Homo sapiens: one gene and its partners. The protein of the gene in region 1 interacts with the protein of each later gene in a biochemical or structural test. Each region holds a gene or a part of one and is shown in the gene's direction. Other genes may lie near its edges. The genes, in order: HPF1, HMGN4 and HMGN2.

What was found.
Region 2: the proteins of HPF1 (region 1) and HMGN4 form a complex in vitro, tested with the Homo sapiens proteins (one study listed by BioGRID).
Region 3: the proteins of HPF1 (region 1) and HMGN2 form a complex in vitro, tested with the Homo sapiens proteins (one study listed by BioGRID).

What each region holds. Positions count from the first base shown.
Region 1 is NC_000004.12:169,733,933-169,741,038, reverse strand, and holds part of HPF1 (histone PARylation factor 1), read left to right. Parts: intron 1-3,291; coding exon 3,292-3,379; intron 3,380-7,106. UniProt on the Homo sapiens protein: Cofactor for serine ADP-ribosylation that confers serine specificity on PARP1 and PARP2 and plays a key role in DNA damage response.
Region 2 is NC_000006.12:26,534,036-26,541,427, forward strand, and holds the start of HMGN4 (high mobility group nucleosome-binding domain-containing protein 4), read left to right. Parts: upstream 1-4,330; 5' UTR 4,331-4,466; intron 4,467-7,392.
Region 3 is NC_000001.11:26,468,019-26,475,544, forward strand, and holds the start of HMGN2 (non-histone chromosomal protein HMG-17), read left to right. Parts: upstream 1-4,421; 5' UTR 4,422-4,594; coding exon 4,595-4,609; intron 4,610-5,464; coding exon 5,465-5,509; intron 5,510-5,684; coding exon 5,685-5,714; intron 5,715-6,066; coding exon 6,067-6,117; intron 6,118-6,553; coding exon 6,554-6,649; intron 6,650-7,094; coding exon 7,095-7,130; 3' UTR 7,131-7,526. Other genes in the region: dehydrodolichyl diphosphate synthase complex subunit DHDDS, read left to right, coding at 874-1,113. UniProt on the Homo sapiens protein: Binds to the inner side of the nucleosomal DNA thus altering the interaction between the DNA and the histone octamer. May be involved in the process which maintains transcribable genes in a unique chromatin conformation.

The sequences.
Region 1 (7,106 bases):
TTTTAAATATTAAGATTTTATATTGCCATTTACCTTTCTGGTTATCACAGGAAGCTTCTTCCACTTTGTGACTAGGAGGAAGGGTAGCATTTGTAACCTAGTTAATGTATTTCTAATTTGTTTTGACTAAAGTCTGAGCATCCGTACACATAATAGCTGTTAGCAAATTATTTAATCAGTCTTTTTTTATTTTTCTACCACAAGCTATGATTTATTTCAGAGGAGATTTTCTTAATTCTTCCCCATAAAGAAGATATGATTGAGGTTTAAATTTCATAGATATTTTTGTCCTAGACCCCTCCCCTATGAAGTTTCATTTTAGTATTTGTTTTTTATACAAAAACAGCTGGTAAAAACAAAGACAAAAAAGAACTTTCAAGACAATCATGTTTTTAATCCTCCCCTGTTAATGACTATACTTTCAAACCCTTTTCTGTTAAATGCAAGGTTGTTCTTTTATTGTTTTTGTGAGATCTTCATTGAATTCATATTTTTCTACTGAAGAATTCAATTCCACTAGTATATGTGAGTTAGTGGCTTTGTCCTTGTGTGTGAGCGTAAGCATATTTCCACTCTAGTATGATAGAGCACTGTGCAGCACACTAGAAATCAGTGTTTTTATACTGATAGTAACTTAGCATACTTTGGAATGCAGAGTCTTTATGAGTTATATCATTTGACTCCCTACAACAAATCTGCAAAGTTGGAATTATCCTATTTTATAGATGAGTAAATTGAGGGTTATAGAGGTTTTGTGTCTTGTCCAAAATCTTAAATGACACATGTAAAACCCAACTTCATATTTTCCATATTTAGCATTCTTTCCACCCCATCTTCTTACTAATTGGCTCTCTGCCACTTCACCTTTTTCATACCTGGATTTCTTCATAAGGAACGTTGGTTAAATGATGCATAAAATGATGGTGTGGCACTCCATCCACCTGTGATCCCATGCTTCAGGATGTCACCCACCCCTATACAGCTTTCCTAAATTTGTAATCTTATTCTTCTTAATTTCTTAATAAAATTACAATTCTGATGACTTCTTAATTGATTCCTCTTCATGGACAATTAGTACAGGTAATCATCTGTGAAAAATCTGAACATATTACCATCATTCTTTATGTTGTTCAGCCTGAGCTGGCAACTATAGCACTGCTGTCTTTTTCTTTCATTATCAGTGCTTTATGTCCTGCTTTTTACACTTATGAATATGGTATCTTTATCATTTCATATTGCCAATTTAAGATCTACCTCATAATTTTGAGCGGCTGCAGAATACTGTGCTTATGGTCAAAGTTTGGGTTGCTTAAGATTTTTCACAAACACAATCCTGCCATAGATATCCTTTTATACCTTTATTCTCATACTTATCTGGTTATTTTTTTAGAAGAAATTCCTAGACGTAGTATTGCCAGGTCCAAAGTAGTTTGTGTGTGTGTAGGTGTGTTTGTAGTTTTTCTTTGCTTGTTTCTAATTTTGGGGGGTTTTCTTTAGTCTTTTTAGTTTTTTCCATGCTGGTAGGTATAAAATTCTGCAGTTTTAATTAGCATTTCTTTAATTATAAAGGACGTTAAATACTTTTCTCTGTTGGCCATTGTATTTTTTTTTTAACTGCCTGAACTCTGCCCATTTCTCTATCAGGGTTAGAATTAGTCTTTTTCTTACATGTGTTCTAATTTGGATGTTAGTCTTTTCCTTTGTTAGACTCCCTTATAGTTTAAAGACATTAATTTTTATTTACTATTACATTTTGCAGATATATTTTATCAGTTAATTTGTCTTGTGTACTTGATTTCACTGGATAGACTTTTTATTTTTATATAGTCAACTCTTCTCTATCACAAAATTATTTTTTAAAATTTACCTTCGAGTAGTTTTATGTCTTTATTTTTTATTTATTATGCTTTAAATTTTAGGGTACATGTGCACAACGTGCAGGTTTGTTACATATGTATACATGTGCCATGTTGGTGTGCTGCATCCATTAACTCGTCATTTACATTAGGTATATCTCCTAATGCTATCCCTCCCTCCTCCCCCCACCCCACCACAGGCCCCAGTGTGTGATGTTCCCCACTCTGTGTCCAAGTGTTCTCATTGTTCAATTCCCACCTATGAGTGAGAACATGTAGTGTTTGGTTTTTTGTCCTTGTGGTAGTTTGCTGAGAATGATGGGTTCCAGCTTCATCCATGTCCCTACAAAGGACATGAACTCATCCTTTTTTATGGCTGCATAGTATTCCATGGTGTATATGTGTATGGTTTTATTTTTACATTTAATTCTGAAATCCAGCTGCAGATTATCTTGATAGAAAGATTAAGATAGAAGACAATGACTTCATTTTTTTCCCAAGTGGTAAGCAGTTGTCTGATAACTTCCTTTGAATAATCTGCCCTTTCTGGCAGCTTAATAAAGGATAATGAAAGAAGCAAGAGACTGGGAGAATAGGGAGATTAGAGAGAAAAAAATCTTTAAGATATAGAGACTTAGGTGAGAGGCCTTTAAAATTGGAGTTTGGTTTTTGGGTTGTGTCCTTCCTCTGCCTTGGAAACTTTTCACTGAATTGCACAAAGAAGTGGAATATTTGTACAGATGTTTCGCTAAGGAAAGACCTAAAAATAATGTCACTAACATGAGCTAAAGGAAGAATGGAAACTGGAAGGGTTATGGTGGTAGTTGTAGTTGGGCCTGTTTTTGTCTTTGAAGACTACCACTTAATAAAAGCTCACTGGTTATGTGATTTGCCTCCATAAAGGACACCACAAACCTAGAAACTGCCCTACTTTTGGGAAGTTTGCAGAGAAGCCTAAATATTCCAGGTAAAAATAGGGGAGTCTCAATTTGGCAGGATGGATGAGAGGAGTTCTGTCCTACCATATCTTCTTGCTGACAAGAACTATTTCTTACTCTTTTTCTTTTAGAACCAGGTTCCTCTGTGCTTTCTACCAGAAGGTACTTTGACCTTAGAGGAAACCAATATTTTGACTTGCCTTCTAGGATGTATTGGGTTCTTCCTTAACAAATCAGGGTGCAGACTTCCAAGTGACTGGCACAATTAAGAAAAGCCAATTATTTCACTGTTCTGTGATTACTTCAACTGTTTAACTTTTAGCTGATTTTCAAGAAAAAAATAGTGTTAAATTTTTACCCTGGAGTCCAAATTTACTGAAATAAAATGTGATTAAATGTTACATTTTGGCAGAAATGTTGAGGGTTTATGTATTTGGGGATTTTTTTTTTTGATGTCTGCTTACCATGATTACATTTTATTCTTTTCTTTAATGTAGGTTGTGACAAAGACCTTTCATGGTGCAGGCTTGGTTGTTCCAGTAGATAAAAATGATGTTGGGTACCGAGAGCTCCCTGAAACAGATGGTAATGTATTTCATAGTAAACATGTGCATATATGTTAATGCACATGAATAAAGGTTTTGCTTATATTGGGAAGTAGGTATGTCTATATACCTTTTCTGACACAGTCGCTAGACCTTAGTAATAAAGAGTAAGCTGAGGTTTTAGAGTCAGTCATTCCTGAATTAAAACCGAGTTCATAGCTGTGTGGCCTTGAACAAATTATTTAACCCTGTGAAATCTTGTCTTTTTCATCTGTAAAATGGAGCTAATCATATGCACTTCATAAAGGAATTTGTGGTGTAAACAAGTATTAAAATACTTAACAAAATGCTTGCCTCAGTGTTCAAAATTCAGTAGTTTCTTTTTTTGTTTGTTTTTTTTTTTTTTTTTTGAGACGGAGTGTTGCTCTGTCGCCCAGGCTGGAGTGCAGTGGCGCAATCTCAGCTCACTGCAACCTCCGCCTCCCAGGTTCAAGCGATTCTCCTGCCTCAGCCTCCCAAGTAGCTGGGATTATAGGCACCCACCACCATGCCCAGCTAATTTTTGTATTTTCAGTAGAGACGGGGTTTCAGAATTTTAACCCATTGCCTGCTTCTTGGGAACTATTTCCGAACCTTTGACATTACAGTCAACTTGCAAAGTAGTAATTATTGAAATTGTGTTTTTATGGTTCTTTGTGAACATTTTTTCATCTGCCTATAAAATGATTTAGCTTTCAGAAGCCCAAGATCCTGAACTACGTCATCTGTAAGTATAAAAACACTTTGAAAATGGACCACTGCGCATAATCTAGTTATTGCTACGTTAAACATCGAGAATTAAAATCGCTTCTCAATTCTTTTCCCCTTGTCTCCATTCCCTTATCGTGAACAGCCCTGCTGGTATTCCTTTATTGATCATCCTCTTCTGGGGGGATAAAACTTAAAGGGAAATCAAACTTAGCATCTTCTCAAAGAACCACATATTCCTGCCCAATGCACGTATTTGGCCGTCTGCTTTTCAGAACAGAACTAACTAGCCTTGGTAGTTACCAGTCTCTGGGGGTTGTGACCTGGACATCTGCATTTAAACCAATTCTCTAAAGCAGTTCTTCTCAAATTTTACTGTGCAGAGTCTCCAGCCAGTAGGTAGAGATGTCTTAGATGGCAGCTACTCATACGGACCTGTTTTTGCTGTACCCCTGCCACTTAGAGGAGTGCCATAGGGAAGACGAATGTGGCTGAGCTGTCCAGTGTGATGGCCACTGAGTGCCTCACAGGTGGCTCCTGCAACAAAATTTGTAACTCGTATTTATTTTTTACTTCTTTTTTTTTTTTTTTTTGTGACAGGGTCTCACTCTGTCACCCAGGACGGAGCGCAGTGGTGCAATTAACCTGTCTCGGCCTCCCGAGTAGCTGGGACTACAGGTGTGCACCACCATGCCTGGCTAATTGGTGGGTTTTGTTTTTGTTTTTGTTTTTGTCCTGTAGAGACGGGGTCTCACTCTGTTGCCGATGCTGGTCTCGAACTCCTGGGCTCACGTGATCAACCCACCTCGGCTTCCCAAAGTTTTGGGATTATAGGCATGAGCCACCGAACCTGGCCTGTAATTTTCTATAATTTTAATTAGTTTAAGTTTGTAAATTAAAACAGGATTAAATGTTTCTTACATTGATTATATGTTGACATAATACTATTTTGGAAATATGGGTTAAATAAAATATCTTAATTTCACCTGTTTTTTGTTGTTGGTTTTTTTTTTTTTTTTTAGCTCCTTCTCCTGCCCCACCTGTTTCTTTTTTCATGTGGATACTGGAAAAAATGTAACCCACACTGTATTTCTCTTAGACAGGCTGATCTGTCCTATATCTCCTCTTTGAAGCCAGAGTCAATTAGTCTCTGATGGGACCATTGTGGGCCCTAGCTACTGGTCAGTCTTCTGCTTCTACACTAAGTCATCTTCTCTTCATGTCTCTGCTCACAGAGAGAGCTTTAAAAAGCATGATTACTATCTCGTTTGGGAAAGGTTGCGCACATTTGTTGTAGAGATGGGCAGTCTCTAAAGCTTTTGGGGTGATGGATGTTAAATTGTAGTGCCCTGGAGTAAAGCCTGTTACCCTGCGGTAGTTGTGGTTCTGGGGTTTTATATCCAAGTCTACTATTCTAGGCATTAGATCCTTCTGTATTTAATTAGTTTTGAAGTGGTAGCAAAACATTAAGACTGAAGGACCTAATCTTCTTGCTCTTGCCAGTGTCATTTGCCAAGAGGTATAACTGACTGGCAGTTTGTTAATGTGACAATGATTAGCAAATCACAACTAAGTTTGTTCTTAACCCTTTGAAGCTTCTCACAATAACGCTTTAACTTAGCAAATAAGATACGTTTTATTGAGCAATTCTTAAATGTCAGTGTCATGATTCACTTTAACAAGTGATGTATTTAATTCTCACCCAACTCTTTATTGTAGGTCTTATTCCCATGTTCACAAAGGAAATAGACTCACGGTGCTTAGCATTAGTCAGTAAGGGCTCTGGTTTTCTTTTTTTCTTTCTTTCTTCTTTTTTTTTTTTTTTGAGATGGAATTTTGCTCTTGTCACCCAGGCCGGAGTGCAATGGTAGGGTGTCAGCTCACTGTAACCTCCGCCTCCCAGGTTCAAGTGATTCTCCTGCCTCAGCCTCCTGAGTAGCTGGGATTACAGGCACCCACCACCATGCCCAGCTAATTTTTGTATTTTTAGTAGAGACAGGGTTTCAACCATGTTGATCAGGCTGGTCTCGAACTCCTGACCTCAAGTTATCTACCTGCCTTGGCTTCCCAAAGCCCCGGCTGAGGGCACTGGTTTTCATACTTGGTTTTCTGACTGTAGAGTGCATACTACTATCCGAAGTAAGAAGAGTTGCCTGCCTAGTTGCCTGATTTTTACCTTGACAGAACTACTGTAGCTTAATTTAAGTATTCTAGTTGATAGTAGTGGCAGGGATATAGTAAGAATTCAGCAGTGAAACTCCTAACTCATTAAATTGAGTATTTTGAGTAGAAACATTTAAGTCATCATTTTTGAATAGTTAACTTAAGGCTTCACTCATGTTCTTTAAGTTTGGGTTTCAGTTAAATGAAATTTCTGTAGAATGTTTTATTGCTGGAAGAACATATTTTTCCTTGTACTGATGGTGAGCTGAATATTTTCATCTCTGTTCTTCAGTGTTTTTCTAGCTTAGTAATTCGCATAAGTTGCTTATTCTTTTTAGTCCATATGTGACTTGCCAGGTGTAAAAATAGAAAATAAGATACTGGAAAGCGATAAACTTTAAATTCTTCACTTCCATACCCACCCTGATTTGTAGTGGCTGACTGGAGCACAGCGAGAGAGATTCTAAGGGTCCCAGTCAATCAGTTACACCCACGATAACAGGGAGGAACCACTTATTTTCCATCCTTAAGGAGCTTTTTGGAGAAAGCTTCATCTGTTTTCTTGAAATGATCAGCACTGATTTTTCTGAAGAAAGGAATGTCATGAAGCTCATGTAAAATAATTTAATTTGTAAAAGGTTTCAAACCAACAAATATGTCACTACTGTTTATAGATAGTTAGAAACGTAGGTGGTGCAGTTTGCCATTCGTTCAATGCGATACTGGTCCACCAAAAGTGGGAAAGGGAACAACACATTTTGTGACTGGGGTAACAGCATGTATTCTGTACTGTCGTCAAGACTGAACCAAATGTTATTCATAGACTGGGGTTAAAAGCACTAGTATATAGTATATTT
Region 2 (7,392 bases), on another chromosome or scaffold:
ACAGACATTTCAGTATTCCTTAGCTGTATCAATATTTGAAGGATTTCTCTGTCACAGTCTAAGGCAGACATTGGCATGTACCTTTGCCTATGTATGCGATGGGGGGAACAGTAAAAGGTCACGCCGACTAGAGTTTTCATTTTTATAAAAAGATGCAAGTCGGCCGGGCGCAGTGGCTCACGCCTGTAATCCCAGCACTTTGGGAGGCCGAGGCGGGCGGATCACGAGGTCAGGAGATCGAGACCATCCTGGCTAACACGGTGAAACCCCATCTCTACTAAAAATACAAAAAAATTAGCCAGGTGTGGTGGTGGGCGCCTGTAGTCCCAGCTACTCGGGAGGCTGAGCCAGGCGAATGGCGTGAACCTGGGAGGCAGAGCTTGCAGTGAGCTGAGGTCGCGCCACTGCACTCCACCCCGGGCGACAGAGCGAGACTCCGTCTCAAAAAAAAAAAAAAAAAAAAGATGCCAGTCTATGAATTCAGCACTCACTTTGATTGAGACTCATGAAATAAGCACTTATTACTTTATTATTATAAGATTAGCCATCATATTATTAGTGTGCTTGGAGCCAATATAATCATCATAAATAGCACAGTCACACCTAATATGGCTTTAACCCAACTGTGGCAGGCCCCAGACAGCAGAGCCAATAGTATTTTATTTTGGTTTTTCCTTTGGCAGCTGACGAAGTTTGCACAGAATTTCTAGAATGTCAAAGGAATTGTTTAGCCAGAGATGAGCCTTGGAAGCAAATTGAGACTTTGAGCAATCATTTACAGAACTCTTGGTGTGAACCATATCTTCTATTCAGTTCCGACTGTGATTAGGAACCATGGAACCCTCACATTGGCTCCGCTCCACACGTCTGAAATTGGAGAGGATGCAGGTGGCTGTGTCACAGACTGCCGACAGTCATGTAAAACAATGTGAGAGTGGCAGATGGTGTAGTTTTCCATGTGCCTGGGAGTGAAACTAAAAAAAACTGCACTGAAACACAGAGAAGAGTCCACCACTGTCATAGTTGTATGTGTCAACTTAGGCTACCCAGTTATTCAATTAAACACTAACCTACATGTTTCTGTGAAGTTATCTTGTAAATGTGGTTAACAATCAGTTAACCTTAAAAAAAGATTCTCCCTTATGTAGATGGGCCTTATCCAATCAGTTAAAAGGCTTTGAGAGCAAAACAAAGGCCTCCCTAAGGAAGAAGAAATTCTGTTTCAAGACTTCAGCATCAGCTTCTGCCTGAGAGTTTCCAGCCTGCCCTACAACCCTACAGGTTTCAGACTTGCCAGTCCTCACCCTAGATATATATAGATATATATCTAGATTTATATATCTGGACTCTTTCTCCGATATATGCTGAAGAAAAGACTGGAAGTTGAAACTGGAACTGTCAGAAAAGATGTAGAAAGATTTCCAAGAGCAAAGCAAAAGCATTTCTTTTTTTTTTTTTTTGAGACAGAGTTTTGCTCTTATTGCCTGGGCTGGAGTGCAATGGGCGCGATCTCGGCTCACTGCAACCTCCGCCTCCCGGGTTCAAGTAATTCTCCTGCCTCAGCTTCCCGAGTAGCTGGGACCCACGTCCGGCTAATTTTTTGTATTTTTAGTAGAGACGGGGTTTTACCATGTTGGGCAGGCTGGTCTCGATTTCCTTACCTCGTGATCCGCCCACCTCGGCCTCCCAAAGCGCTGGGATTACAGGCGTGAGCCACCACGCCCAGCTGAAAGCATTTATTGTAGTGAATATGGCTAAGAAATTTGAGGCACCCAAGGGAGGTCTTCAAAGCCTGCAAAACACAGATAAATTTTTATAGACAAACACTAAGGAGACTGAATGTGGACAGAGCCTACAGCCAGCTGGGTTAAAGCTCATTTTTAAGGTGCTAGGTGGGACCTGTGACTTCCAGGGATGCTCTAGCCTGACCAGCATGGAGAAACCCCGTCTCTACTAAAAATACAAAATTAGCCGGGCGTGGTGGAGCATGCCTGTAATCCCAGCTACTTGAGAGGCTGAGGCAGGAGAATCGCTTGAACCCGGGAGGCAGAGGTTGCGGTGAGCCGAGATCGCGCCATTGCACTCCAGCCTGGGCAATAAGAGCAAAATTCTGTCTCCAAAAAAAAAAAAAAAAAAGTTTTGGTAACCTATTTTAACATAATTAGTTTTCTTTTGAAATCTTACATATTTATCTTTTCTTTCGTGTATTTAAAAGTATTATTCTGAGATAGAGTCCAGAATCACCAAGCTGCCCTTGGGGTCCATAGTACAAAACCTAACGAGAAGATCCCTATGCTATTGCCTAGGGAGTAATCCATAACCTAGGTCTACCTTAATATTTATGCAGAAAGAGCAGAATATTTTTTGTAACGGCTGTTGAAACCTTATGAACTGAAAACAAATATTTTCTAATCTCAAAGTGTATATTCTCAATATCAGGCAGTTTTACTTCTGTTTAGTAGACCTCATCTTATTTAAAATGCTCACCAGGCATGGGGATGATTTATTCTCAGAAATATGGACAAACTAAAACACACACATATGAGACGTTTGTTTGCTTTCAAAGTGAAAAAGTGAACATTCATATGAGTGTCCGGGTTGATGATGCTCCTTATAAAGCTGTCAAATTCTGAGATCAAGGCCCTGCAGTAGAAGCAGCATGCAGTGAGGAGGCCTAGCACAGTTTCGCTTAGTAAAATATTTGAAGAAAAAAAAAAAAAGACCCACAGAGAGACAAATGAAAACTCAGACCACGTCACCGTACAACGGCTTCCAGTTTCCTACAGAATACCAGCCAGAGTCCTTACAAGAGCCTGTAAAGCTGGCCAGAGTCCTTACAAGGGCCTATAAAGCTGGAGGTGGTCTCCCAGGATCTCCTATTCCTCTCCACTGAGCACCGGCCTCCTCAACATAACTCCCAAGCCTGCTTCCACCTCCAGGCCTTTTCCCTAGCGATTTTTCCCTGTTCCAGATCACTCATTTCCCCGATATCAGCATTTATCCCTCATTCATCACTTTCACTGCTGGCCTTTCCTATCCTCTTTCCCTGTTTTATTATTATTTTTCTCCAATCGCTTATCACTATTATTTTGTTTATTTAATGCTTTATTATCCGCTTCCGCCACTGCCATGTAATCTTGAGGGCAAGGGTCTCTCATGTTTTCTTCACCGTTATCTGCAGTGCCTTGAACACTAATACTGGTTGAATGAACGAACGCATTAATGGAGCGGTGATATTGGGGCAGAGAGGATGCAGGGCTTGCTTTTCACCGCCATTTTTCAGCCGGCAGAGACAGACCGAGAAAGGAATGAAGGCCACGGGGCGTGTGCAGAAGTAGCTACCAGAGAGTCCATGCGCTGCGAGCCTGGACCAGCGGGCAAACGCGGCTTACAGGCGTTCACCCAGATATTACGGGTACAACCTAGTTTCTTATGAAATACCTCGCCCCTAAGGTACGCGCAGGGCCAGTGGCGCAATGGATAACGCGTCTGACTACGGATCAGAAGATTCCAGGTTCGACTCCTGGCTGGCTCGGTGTAAGCAGGGTCGTTTTACAACTTTCTGACTCCGCAGGAGTAAGGAAATTCCTGCAAGATAAATTTGCCTGGAAGACTCAGAAGCAAGAGGGGCAGCTCCCGACAACATATGGGGTTATCATTTCTTTGCGGAGCATTCTGCCACTGACCACGTGGTAACGCCAACTACGCCAGAGAAACGCTCGCCCTACCCAAGTTGTGCCCAGCCTTGCCTGGCCATTTTGGCCGAAGAACGAAGGACCGTTCAGAGATTAAATTAAAGTCTCTATTGTGTTCTTCCCTATTCAGTCATTTGTAGAATAAATTCTATGGCTTCAGTTTGAACACTGGAGGGGCTGGGTCTGAGCTTTTCATTGGTTTTTCTGGTTTGAGAGGTCGGTACAGAGACGCACGCGCACATCAGCAAAACACGCACTTGGAACGAAGAAACACGGAACTAGGCAGGAAGAACTATTTACTCTGAAAAATAAGCCCTTAGTGGGTTTCCGTAGTGTAGTGGTTATCACGTTCGCCTCACACGCGAAAGGTCCCCGGTTCGAAACCGGGCGGAAACACGTTTTTTTTTCCTCATCTTACTACGAAATTCTTCCAGTGTGTATCTTTTAAAGACTTTTTCAGGCTGTCATAAATTTCCTGTCTTCTTGTCTTGCTAGATCGGGGCAGCAGTGCTTAGGGCGGGCCTCAGAGGCTCACACACGTATCGCCAGGGGGAGAACCAGCTCTCTCCGGCTTGGACTCGGGGCGGCTCCCCGCCTGCAGCCCCGGAAGCGCATCCTCACCTTCCCTCGCCTTCCTGTTCCTGGCGGAGCCGGGCTCCGCTCGTCTTCTCTGTCTTAGGGCTGGTGCTGGCCCTGCCCACGCCTAGGGCTCCGGCGCGTCACGGGCCTCAGCTGGGATTCCCGCGCCCCTCGGACGGCCACGAGACTCGGGTAAGTGCCTCACAGACTTTGTGCGCTACCCCGGAAAATGAGGGGCGTGGTGGGGGGGGTCCCGCCGCCCTCCGTATACTTAGGACCCTCCTGCCAGCTGGCCCCGGTCATGATTAGGGGCCTTGGGCCCCGTCAGCCCCGCCTGTCTTCCCGTCTCCAGAGTAATCGCAGCATCTCTCCTGAGCTCCGAGTGTGAATCCCTGGGAAAAGCTGAATCCAGAGGTGGGGTCACAGAGAGCCGCAGGCCCGACCGGGATGAGAAGTCCTAATCGGCGTTCTAGGGGCGTTCTAAAAGAAGGAAGGAAGGGGATTTGAAAGGATTGCTCCCGCAGGGCTGTGGCCTTAAAGAGGTGGTGACTGGCAGGTTGGACTGACCTGCCGTGGGCTCTCCCTTCCTCCCCAATTTACCTTCGAGAAACCCTCGTTGAGGAGACACCCAAGGGCTGAGTCCTCCTCCACTTTGACCTTTTGCTATTCCATCACAAAGAAAAAATGGATCCCAAAGTTAAGAAATGGACCAGCACTTGTTTAGAATCAGGACTGGTGCCTTGGTGTTTGGCCTCTTACCTCTGCCACATGGCTTGCTTACAAGTTAATCGGATTAATCAAACGCTTTTATGAGAAAGTTTTGTTGTGTCACCTGGCAGCCTCGGGTGTTCCCTAAGAGGGATTTCTTTCTTAGATGTATTACTACTTTTTCTAGGGATTAGCCAAGCCTAGCCTCTCAGATCATATTGCTCCAGGTTCCCTCAAATGACTAATAAGAATGTGATGTGTTTGTTTTTGTTTGTTTGTTTTTGAGACGGAGTCTCACTCTGTTGTCCAGGCTGGGGTGCAATGGTGCGATCTCGCTCACTGCAACCTCCACCTCGATTCTTGTGCCTCAGGCTCCCGAGCAGCTGGGACTACAGGTGTGTAACACTACACCCGGATAATTTTTGTATTTTTAGTTGGAGACGGAGTTTCACCATATTGGCCAGGCTGGTCTCAAACTCCTGACCTCAAGTGATCCGCCCGCCTCGGCCTCCCAAAGTGCTGAGATTACAGGCATGAGCCACCGCGCCCAACCGAATGTGATATTTTTATGACCATGAGAAAAGAAGGGCTGCATTCTTTGGTGGGTCCGCAAAATTAAAAAAAAAAAAAAAAAAAGAAAAGAAAAGAAAGAAAAGGACAATGTTAATGAGCTGTTTTCTTTTTATCATTTTCTTAAACAGGCTGCTTGGGTAGACGTTGACTTGAAAGGTCCATTCTTTTGTCATCTTGCTGGTTCCCTTAACAAGACAACACCTTGGCTAGCAAGATAATATCTTGGTTAGCAAGACAATAAACTTGGGCATGTGCTCAACAGCAACCTGTCTAATACATTTTCATTTAAAATCCCCTCTGTACTACTCAGAAATATAAGCAAGTTATTATGGTGCCCAGAAAGGGGGCAAAGGTTCCAGGGTCCTAGGAGATGACAAGGATTTATCCTCTTCATCTTTCTCCGATCCCAGTTAGCAGGAATACTTTAGCCTGGAAGGTGAGTGTGCCCCTAACCAACCTTTACAGATGGGTGACTGTTTGGGAGCTTATGGCTCACTCCTTCTCTTTAAAGCAGATGCATTCTGGCAAGCTGCAGCAGCAAACCTACCCTTTTAGACACCCTGCGTTTTCTCATCTTTCCTTTCTACCCCTGCATCTCCCAGTCTCTCTCACTTAACCTCCGTGGAAACTCATGCTGCGTCTCTAATACTTTGGAAGATGAAGAACAAACGCCCTGGAGAGTGACTGACACCATGTGACCTCTTGCTTCTGTAGCACACTGCATCTTGCCTGTGAATCTTTTTTTTTTTTTCTTTTTTTTTTGAGACCGGGTCTTGCTCTGTCACCCAGGCTGGAGTGCAGTGGCACAATCTTGGCTCACTGCAACCTCCGCCTCCCAGGCTCAAGTGATTCTCCTGCCTCAGCTTCCCAAGTAGTTGGGACTATAGGCATATGCCACCACACCCAGCTAATTTTTGTATTTTTAGTAGAAATGGGTTTCACCATGTTGGCCAGGCTGGTCTTGAACTCCTGACCTCAAGTGATCCACCTGCCTCCACCTCCCAAAGTGCTGGGATTACAGGCGTGAGCCACCACGCCCAGCATTTGCCTGTGCATTTTTTATTGTATTTTAATTATATCCTTTATTCTCTCCTTCCTAAGCTTGGTGTTCTTAACTTTCTTCCAGATCTTCCCTCCAACCCCCAAACACGATCTCTCCTTAAGTAAGAGGCAGGGAGGGAGAGGGGAACCTTCTGATTTCGGGGTGGGATTGAGGCTAAAACCCAAGTTAGAACTACCTCCCAGAAACCCAGTTCCGTATCCATCGAGTGATCAAAAAGATGCTGCTAAAATGTGCCTTGTGTTTGCTAGGGATGAGGTGAAAATGAGTATTGAATGAGGTGGCATTTTGGTCCATGGATTTGCTTGCTATGAAAGAGAAAAAACATGGAAAAATATATTTTGAGAGCTGGGTGAGACCCCCAAATTAATCTAATCCAAGATGTTTCCCTAGTCATTACATTCCTTTTTTTTTGAAACAGAATCTCACTCTATTGCCCAGGCTGGAGTGCAGTGGCGCAATCTCGGCTCACTGCAACCTCTGCCTCCCGGGTTCAAGCAATTCTCCTGCCTCAGCATCCTTAGTAGCTGGGATTACAGGCACGCACCACCACCCATGGCTAATTTTGTATTTTTAGTAGAGATAGGGTTTCACCATGTTGGCCAGGCTGGTCTCGAACTTCTGACCACCTTGGCCTCCCAAAGTTCTGGGATTACAGGCGTGAGCCACCACGCCCTGCCTGAGTCACTAAATTCTTACACTGTTCCCTCCTATGTTAGTCCGCTAGGGCTGCCGAAACAAGGTACCACAGGCTGAGTGACTTAAACAACAAAAATT
Region 3 (7,526 bases), on another chromosome or scaffold:
GCCCTCTAGTACTTGGGATGATAACTGCTGCCAGGGAGTATGATCACCACCTGGTGTCAGAGCTGGTTGCAAGAGGCTTGAAGGCTCTCAAACTTCCAAGGGCTTATTTTCTAACAGAAAGAGTGGATTGTGAACACTAACACTTATTCTACTATGCAGAATGCAATAAGTGGCTTAAGAGAGTTGAACCTGCTTCTCAGAATGTTCATAGGGGGGTCATTTGCTGGAAGGATCAGGCTGGTCTTCATACAGGAGGCAAGTCTGGAGCTCTGAAAAATAGCCTAGGGAGTGGGGAGGATGGTACCCTCAGAGGAAAACCTGGGGAGATCAAAGGAAGTGACCCAAGGGACATGTCCCCGACAAGAATAGGACCTTTCTTGCAGCGGAGAATAGACAATAACAACTTGTAAAATTGCTGTTTCTGTCTAAGAGCCTGCTAATATCCTAGAGAGGATTTTGCATATGTTATCTCTAATCCTTAAAACCACTCTTCAAGGTAGGCACAACCCCCACTTTACAGATGAAGAAATGAGGTTAGGACAGGATTTGCCCAAAGACACAAAGCCAGTTGATGGGGGAATCAGAAGTCAGACCCACATTTGTTTGGTTCCAAGAGCATGAGAAAAACTTTAAGAAGTACAGACGCTTCCACACAAAACAAACCAAGATGGACCCAGAATTGCCACTGCCCTGCCTGTACAACATGAGCACCACCCACTGCATACCTACTCCCAAGCCTTTTCAAATCTGGTACCTACTTTCCACTGTTCCACTTCACTTGGCCCACCCTGTGCCCCACCCCCTACCTCCTCCATCCCAGTTTCACCCACTCCTAAAAATGATCTCCCCACCCCAATCCCCACTTTTCTCTAGCAGAAGGCCCGAGACATGTATGCAGAGGAGCGGAAGAGGCAGCAGCTGGAGAGGGACCAGGCTACAGTGACAGAGCAGCTGCTGCGAGAGGGGCTCCAAGCCAGTGGGGACGCCCAGCTCCGAAGGACACGCTTGCACAAACTCTCGGCCAGACGGGAAGAGCGAGTCCAAGGCTTCCTGCAGGCCTTGGAACTCAAGCGAGCTGACTGGCTGGCCCGTCTGGGCACTGCATCAGCCTGAATGAGGCTGGCCACCTGCCACTTTGCCCTGCCCTCTGCCTCCAGGGCTCCACTCCCCTTCCTTTTCTTGGTGAAAGGCACCTCCTTTCCTGATAATGAATGGTGTTCCCTTTGCTTGGCTGGGGAGCCCCCCAGGCCAGGTTTGCTGGCCATAGATACCTTTGGGCTGCCTGGGACAGGCTCCTGAGGAGGATTGAGGGTGAAAGTCTCCCACGAGTACACTAAACCTAGGTCTGGTCACCAATAGGGTTTGGAGAGCAAAGGGCCACAACTCATCAGCTGCCTGTCTCTTAGATGCACTTTCTTTTTCCACCAGCACATCCTTCAACACACAGAATTTCAGGGAAGAGTTCTCCCCAAAACCCTAGCTCTTTACCCTTCCATTTTAGCCTTCCACCCAGCTTCCACAAAAGATTTGGCTCTACCTTGGATCTGCTAGTAAATAACTAATAGGCAGGCAGTTATTTGGGTAAGGAAAAAAGGGGTGGGAGAGACAGAAAATTTGCCCATCTGCTGCTCCTCCCCCTTGGCTCTCCACCTGGGATTTGCTATTGAATCTCTACCCTCTCCCACCACACAGTACTGATTGCTCACTGAAAGACTCAGCACCCCCAATGGTGCGCGGAAGCCAGGCGGGCGATTACAATCCAATTACCTATTGTCGACTCAGCCCACACAAGCTTTTCTCCTCCTCTTGCAGGGCATGGGGCCAGGCTCCACTCCCAAATGAGACTGGCCCCCTCCATGGTTCAGGGTAACAGAAGGGCCTGTAGGCCCTGGTGAACTGAATCCAGCACAGGCCTCCCCTGTAACACAACAGGACTGAGCAGAACCAAACACTTCTTCCAACTGACTCTGCTCCCTGCCCTCACCATCTCAAACTCTGATTCCCACTCCACTCTTCGAGGTTTCTCTCAGCTTTTTGACCTGGCTCCCTAAGTAGGCCCTAGATGATTTATTCTTGGCATGGCAAAGCTTGTTCTAGGTCCTCTGCTTGTGAGGGTCAAAGCTGTGTCCTTTCCCTTACCTCCCTCTGCCAGGACTTGCTGCAGAGCTGCTGAGAGGATTAGTGCCTTTGAAGAGCTGTCTGCCTGAGCAACTCTATTTCAGGTGCCCCACACCGGCAAGTACCAGCCAGCAACACCAACCAAATGCTACTCTCTTTAAAGTCCATTTTCCTTCTTCTTTTTTTTTTTTTTTTTGGAGACAGCATCTCACCCTGTCCTGGCTGGTCTCGAACTCCTGACCTCAGGTGATCCGCCGGCCTCACCCTCCCAAAGTGCTGGGATTACAGGCATGAGCCACCATGCCAGACTTCCCATTTTACTTTCTGCAAGCTGTTTCCCTAGCAGCTCCCTCTAGGGGAGAGGTGAAATCTTGCAAGTTGTAGCAAGAGCACACAGGAAACCCCTAACTTTCCTATACCCCACCCGCCTCTTCCCCTTTCTGTCCCGGGATACCTGGCGGCAAGAGACTTCTTGGCTATTGTCCATGCTCCCAGAATCAAGCATAAATGCCAGACACGGCGATTGAGAAGCCAATCAGTGAACCCTTTGGCAAAGCCCCCATCCACACCTGGCACTCCCCTCTACCAATCCCTGGCACAGGGTTCCTGGAGAGCAGGTGCTGTACATTTTACAGCTTTACAATGGGGCTGTTGACAGCCATAATTAGGGAGGCATGAATTATGCGGCTATAATGCAGAGCCCTACAATTAAGGCGGGAATGAGGGGCTGGAGGCAGCAAACGGAATCTGCCCTATGAGCGTGGCTGTTGAGTCCTGTCTCCTGGGTCTGACTTTCCGTAATATGATTGGGGTACAGTAGAGGTGATTAATGGGGCTGGCATCTCTCTTTGGCCTGAGGTTCTGTATTCTGGGAAAGGTACACAGGGTGGAGTAGGGAGAAGCTGCCCCAGGAGGCGATGTAGTGGTGGAAAGAAGAGGCAGAGAGGTCGTCGTCGTCGCCCAGCAGCAAGGGCTGCAAAATAGTAGAACTCGTGGTTGCTTTGGACAGGTGTGATTTGTGCAAGCCAGGTTCAACCCTTGCCTCAAGAAATCAGATGGGACCAATTTAGTGTCCTTCCACCTGTGAGCCAAGCCCCCATTTGAGGACATCTATCGTATTCTTGTGTGCTGGGTCTCAAATAGAATTTTTAAAGATTCTTAGATGTAAAACTTGTTTGCTAACTGCAACGGAAGAACACCTTCTTTTGCTGCTGCAATTGCCTACCCTCCCTCAGGTGCACTTGGCTAGCTCCAAGACCCTGGCTTTGGACTAGGGGGCACCGGAAGAGCCCTTTTGCCATCACACCACCTGTTCCTCTACTTGTTTCCTAATCCCCGGGCGCTTTCCTCCACCCTCCTTTCCTCGCGCAAGTGAAAGGCAGCCAGCTTGACAGTGTGGAAGGAGGGATTTCGCCAGCTGCGGCTGCAGTGCCCAGGCTTGGTGGCCGCGTCGGGTTGGGCAGCTGGGCAAAATGTCTCCGAGAGGGGTAGAGTGTAGGGGGAAGTGAGTGCTGGTAGACCTCGACGGCCGCTCTCCACCATACTGTGGCGGGGTCTGGAGGTTTGGGAATACAGGGACCTTAAGGGAGCCACCCGAGAGGAGTTGGGGGTGGGGGCTTCGATAGCATTTGGGGAGGCGGCTGCGCAACGGGTGCTGAAAGGACAGCTCCTACCTGACCCACGGCACCCAAAAGGCACCTCTGCATGGAAAGTCTCCCCCTGAAACCCCTAGCCCACCTCGAGTGGGACCGTCTTTCAGGTGAGGTGCACGAAAGGCTTCTCCGAAGTGGCAGCTCGGAAGGATGCACGTCCGGCTGCGCCAAGCTGGTTTCCCCGCCTTTTTCCCACTTTGGCGTCAGCCTGGGCTCTGGGAACTGCAGCCTGTGCCTCCAGCCGCGCGCTTCCTCCTGCTTCCAGAGGAGCAGGGCAGTGCAGCCAGGCCTCGCAAACCCCTCTTCTGGGGCCCCCAGCGGGAGCAGGAAGGAAAGCCGCTGAGATGCGCCGTGAGTGTCGCACGGCTTGGAGAAGTGGGTTGCTGGGTTGCATAAGGTGGAAGGAACTTGCTAGTTTGCAAAAGACAGCTCTTGGCGGGAGCCGGAACCCGGAGCCCGCCGACTCGCGCACCCCTCCTCATTTACTGCCTTCGACGCGCGCCACCCCGACTGCGCCCCCACCCCCTCGGCGCGCCGCCGTCTCCGCGCACTACCCCCCCCACACACCCCCCTCCTCACTCCCTCCAGAGGAGGTGAGTTTAAACCCCGCCCACGTGACCCCAGCTGGGCCAATGAACGGCGGCGGGAGGTGAAATCCGGTTCTAACCGGTCCGGGGCTCCCAGCGCTATAAAAACTTTATAAACCCCCCGGAGCCCGAGCAGTGTGAAGAAGAGGCGAGAACGACCCCCGGACCGACCAAAGCCCGCGCGCCGCTGCATCCCGCGTCCAGCACCTACGTCCCGCTGCCGTCGCCGCCGCCACCATGCCCAAGAGAAAGGTACGTGGCGCGAGGGCCCCAGGCGCCGGGCCACCACTGCCGCCACCGCCGCCGCCGCCTCCCTGGTGCAGGGAGCGAGAATCGGCGCCGAGCAGGAGCCAGCGCAGCCTCCCCGCGCGGGGGCTGGAGACGGTGTCGGGCAGCTCGGGGCTAACCCTGAGCGGCTCGGCTGCCCGCGGGCGCCAGAGGCCATATTGGAGGAGCGGCGGCCGCGGCGGGAGGAGCCATGTTGGCGGCTGTTTATCCCGCTCTCCTCGGGCTCGCCGCCCCCGCCCCGTGCCCCCTCCCCCATCGCGAGGGCCCCTTCCCTCCCCTCCCTGCGGGCGGGCAATTCAAACCCGAAAGGGCGGGAAGGCGGCGCTCGGGGTTGGCGGGCGGGGGAAAGCGCTGCCGCCAAAAAACCGCCGCCGTGAGGGGCGGGGCTTGTGCGGTATGGCCCCGCCCCCTCGCCCACGTTCCCCGCGCACGAGACGCGCGCTGTCGCCGCCCACGAGTTCCCCGGGCTGCGCGCGCCTCCCTCTCCCGCCCTCGACGGCTGCCATAGCAACGGCGCTGGGCTCCGCCTCCGGAGGGGGTTTGTTTGCGCCATCTGCAGCTGTTGCTCCTGCCTGTCGCGGTGGTGCGGGCTCCGCTGCCCTCCCCGGCTGCGCTCCGGTCCAGCCCTCGCTTCTCGGGGTCGGCGAGCCGGAGCTCCTGCGCGCGCTTCGTTCTTATACGAACGTCGGGCTCACTCATTTATGTCCTAGAAAAGTTGTGTGGACGACTGCTTTAATTTTCATTTTTAGCACTCTAAAGTTTGGGAAGTAATTAAGAACCACCTCAAAATCTGCAGTTTTTTGTTCTTGTTTCTTATAGGCTGAAGGGGATGCTAAGGGAGATAAAGCAAAGGTGAAGGACGAAGTAAGTCATTCTCTCTTCAAGGGTCAAAGCCTTGGACTAGCAGAGGCCACTGGACTCGGTGATTAACCGTAACCTGTGTCCTGAATTTACACTCCTATAATCTAGAGCAAATTGATACCAAACTTTCAAAGCGACTTACCTGTCCTATTTCTAACTTTCTCGTTGTCTTTAATAGCCACAGAGAAGATCCGCGAGGTTGTCTGCTGTAAGTGTATGCTTTTGAATTTTCGTGCTTGTCCCTGAAACTAAAAAACATCAAAAAACAATTCCCTTTGCTTCCATGAATTATGGTTAGTGCCTGGTTTTGAATCATTGCCTCTACTTGGGACTCTTGCCCCTTTGGGTTTTGCTGGTTCTGAAATTCTGATGCCTGTAGCCAAAGTGGGACATTTGAGTGGGCTTCTGGAAATCCAACATTCTAGAAGAAAGCCAACCACAAAAACTTTTGAGGAGGAGGAGAAACTTCTCTACCCTTGGTACTTTTGGTTGGTTGTGGGTGGTTTTCTTCAGTCCATTGTACTGATGTTCACTTTTTCCTCTCTTCCTGCCAAAAAAAGAAACCTGCTCCTCCAAAGCCAGAGCCCAAGCCTAAAAAGGCCCCTGCAAAGGTAAGTGCTAACATTGGAACTGATCATTTTCACAGAATGAGGACTGTCCTTAGTGCCTTAACTTAATTAGCATAATGGTGCCTCCATTAATGGAGGTTATAAACTGTGTGGATAGCTTACCTCGTCCGTGTCATTCATAACGTTGGTTTCCTGATCAAGAATTCTGTTGTTAGTTTATAGGAAAATCTGCATTTAAATATTAAATACCCCAGGGTTTAAACTAATTTATTCTTCTGTTACTTAGGAAATTCTAAGTACTAAAGATTATAGCAAATTACAGATAATTTAGCCTAGTTTTGATCAGTTGTTCTTGTCAAATGGGTGAGGGTTTGTGTTTTATCTTGAGTAAACAATCCTACCTTGTGCAGAACTTTGCAGACCATACCTTGGTAATACGAAATGGGGAGAAACAGTTCTATTTTTTCCCCTTTTTCAGAAGGGAGAGAAGGTACCCAAAGGGAAAAAGGGAAAAGCTGATGCTGGCAAGGAGGGGAATAACCCTGCAGAAAATGGAGATGCCAAAACAGACCAGGTATAACTGCTGTTTCACCCTTTGTTAGATTTGTTCATTCAGTTAGTTGCTGATATCAAAAATTTAATTGCCCTTTTCTTGTATCACTCCAAATGTACCATTTGGTCCAGTGTGCTTGTGGCTTTCCTGTTAACTTAAATCCTGGATTCTTGAAATCTCTACTGTCAGCTGAAGGGCATTGTGTTTTATACTACATGAAGTTTTCAAGCTAGGAGTAACCTCAGGTCTCTTATTCTGGTGTTCTTCCTACCTCAATTTTACAGTGAGGCCCAGAGGAGAGGTGACTTAGCAAAGTTACCTAGTAAGTCATTCTCAGAAGAAATACTGAGTCTCAGTACCTGAAACCTGAACTTTGGCCTGGGAGCAAAGTGATGCTGTAGGTGGAATGTGAACACAGATAGTTTTGAAATCTACGCATTGCATTAATTTGTCTGTTTTCTTTTAGGCACAGAAAGCTGAAGGTGCTGGAGATGCCAAGTGAAGTGTGTGCATTTTTGATAACTGTGTACTTCTGGTGACTGTACAGTTTGAAATACTATTTTTTATCAAGTTTTATAAAAATGCAGAATTTTGTTTTACTTTTTTTTTTTTTTTAAAAGCTATGTTGTTAGCACACAGAACACTTCATTGTTGTTTTTGGGGGAAGGGGCATATGTCACTAATAGAATGTCTCCAAAGCTGGATTGATGTGGAGAAAACACCTTTCCCTTCTAGTTTTGAGAGACTTCCTCTTGGCTCCCAGGAGGAGGGATTCCCTGACTTTGACACACATGGCCACCTTGGCACAAAAGCCTTGTGGTATAGAAAAACAAATTTGTTTTTATGTCCTCTTCTCCCTTTCCATCGTTCAGCATAGACTTAACTCCCTTAAGCCCAG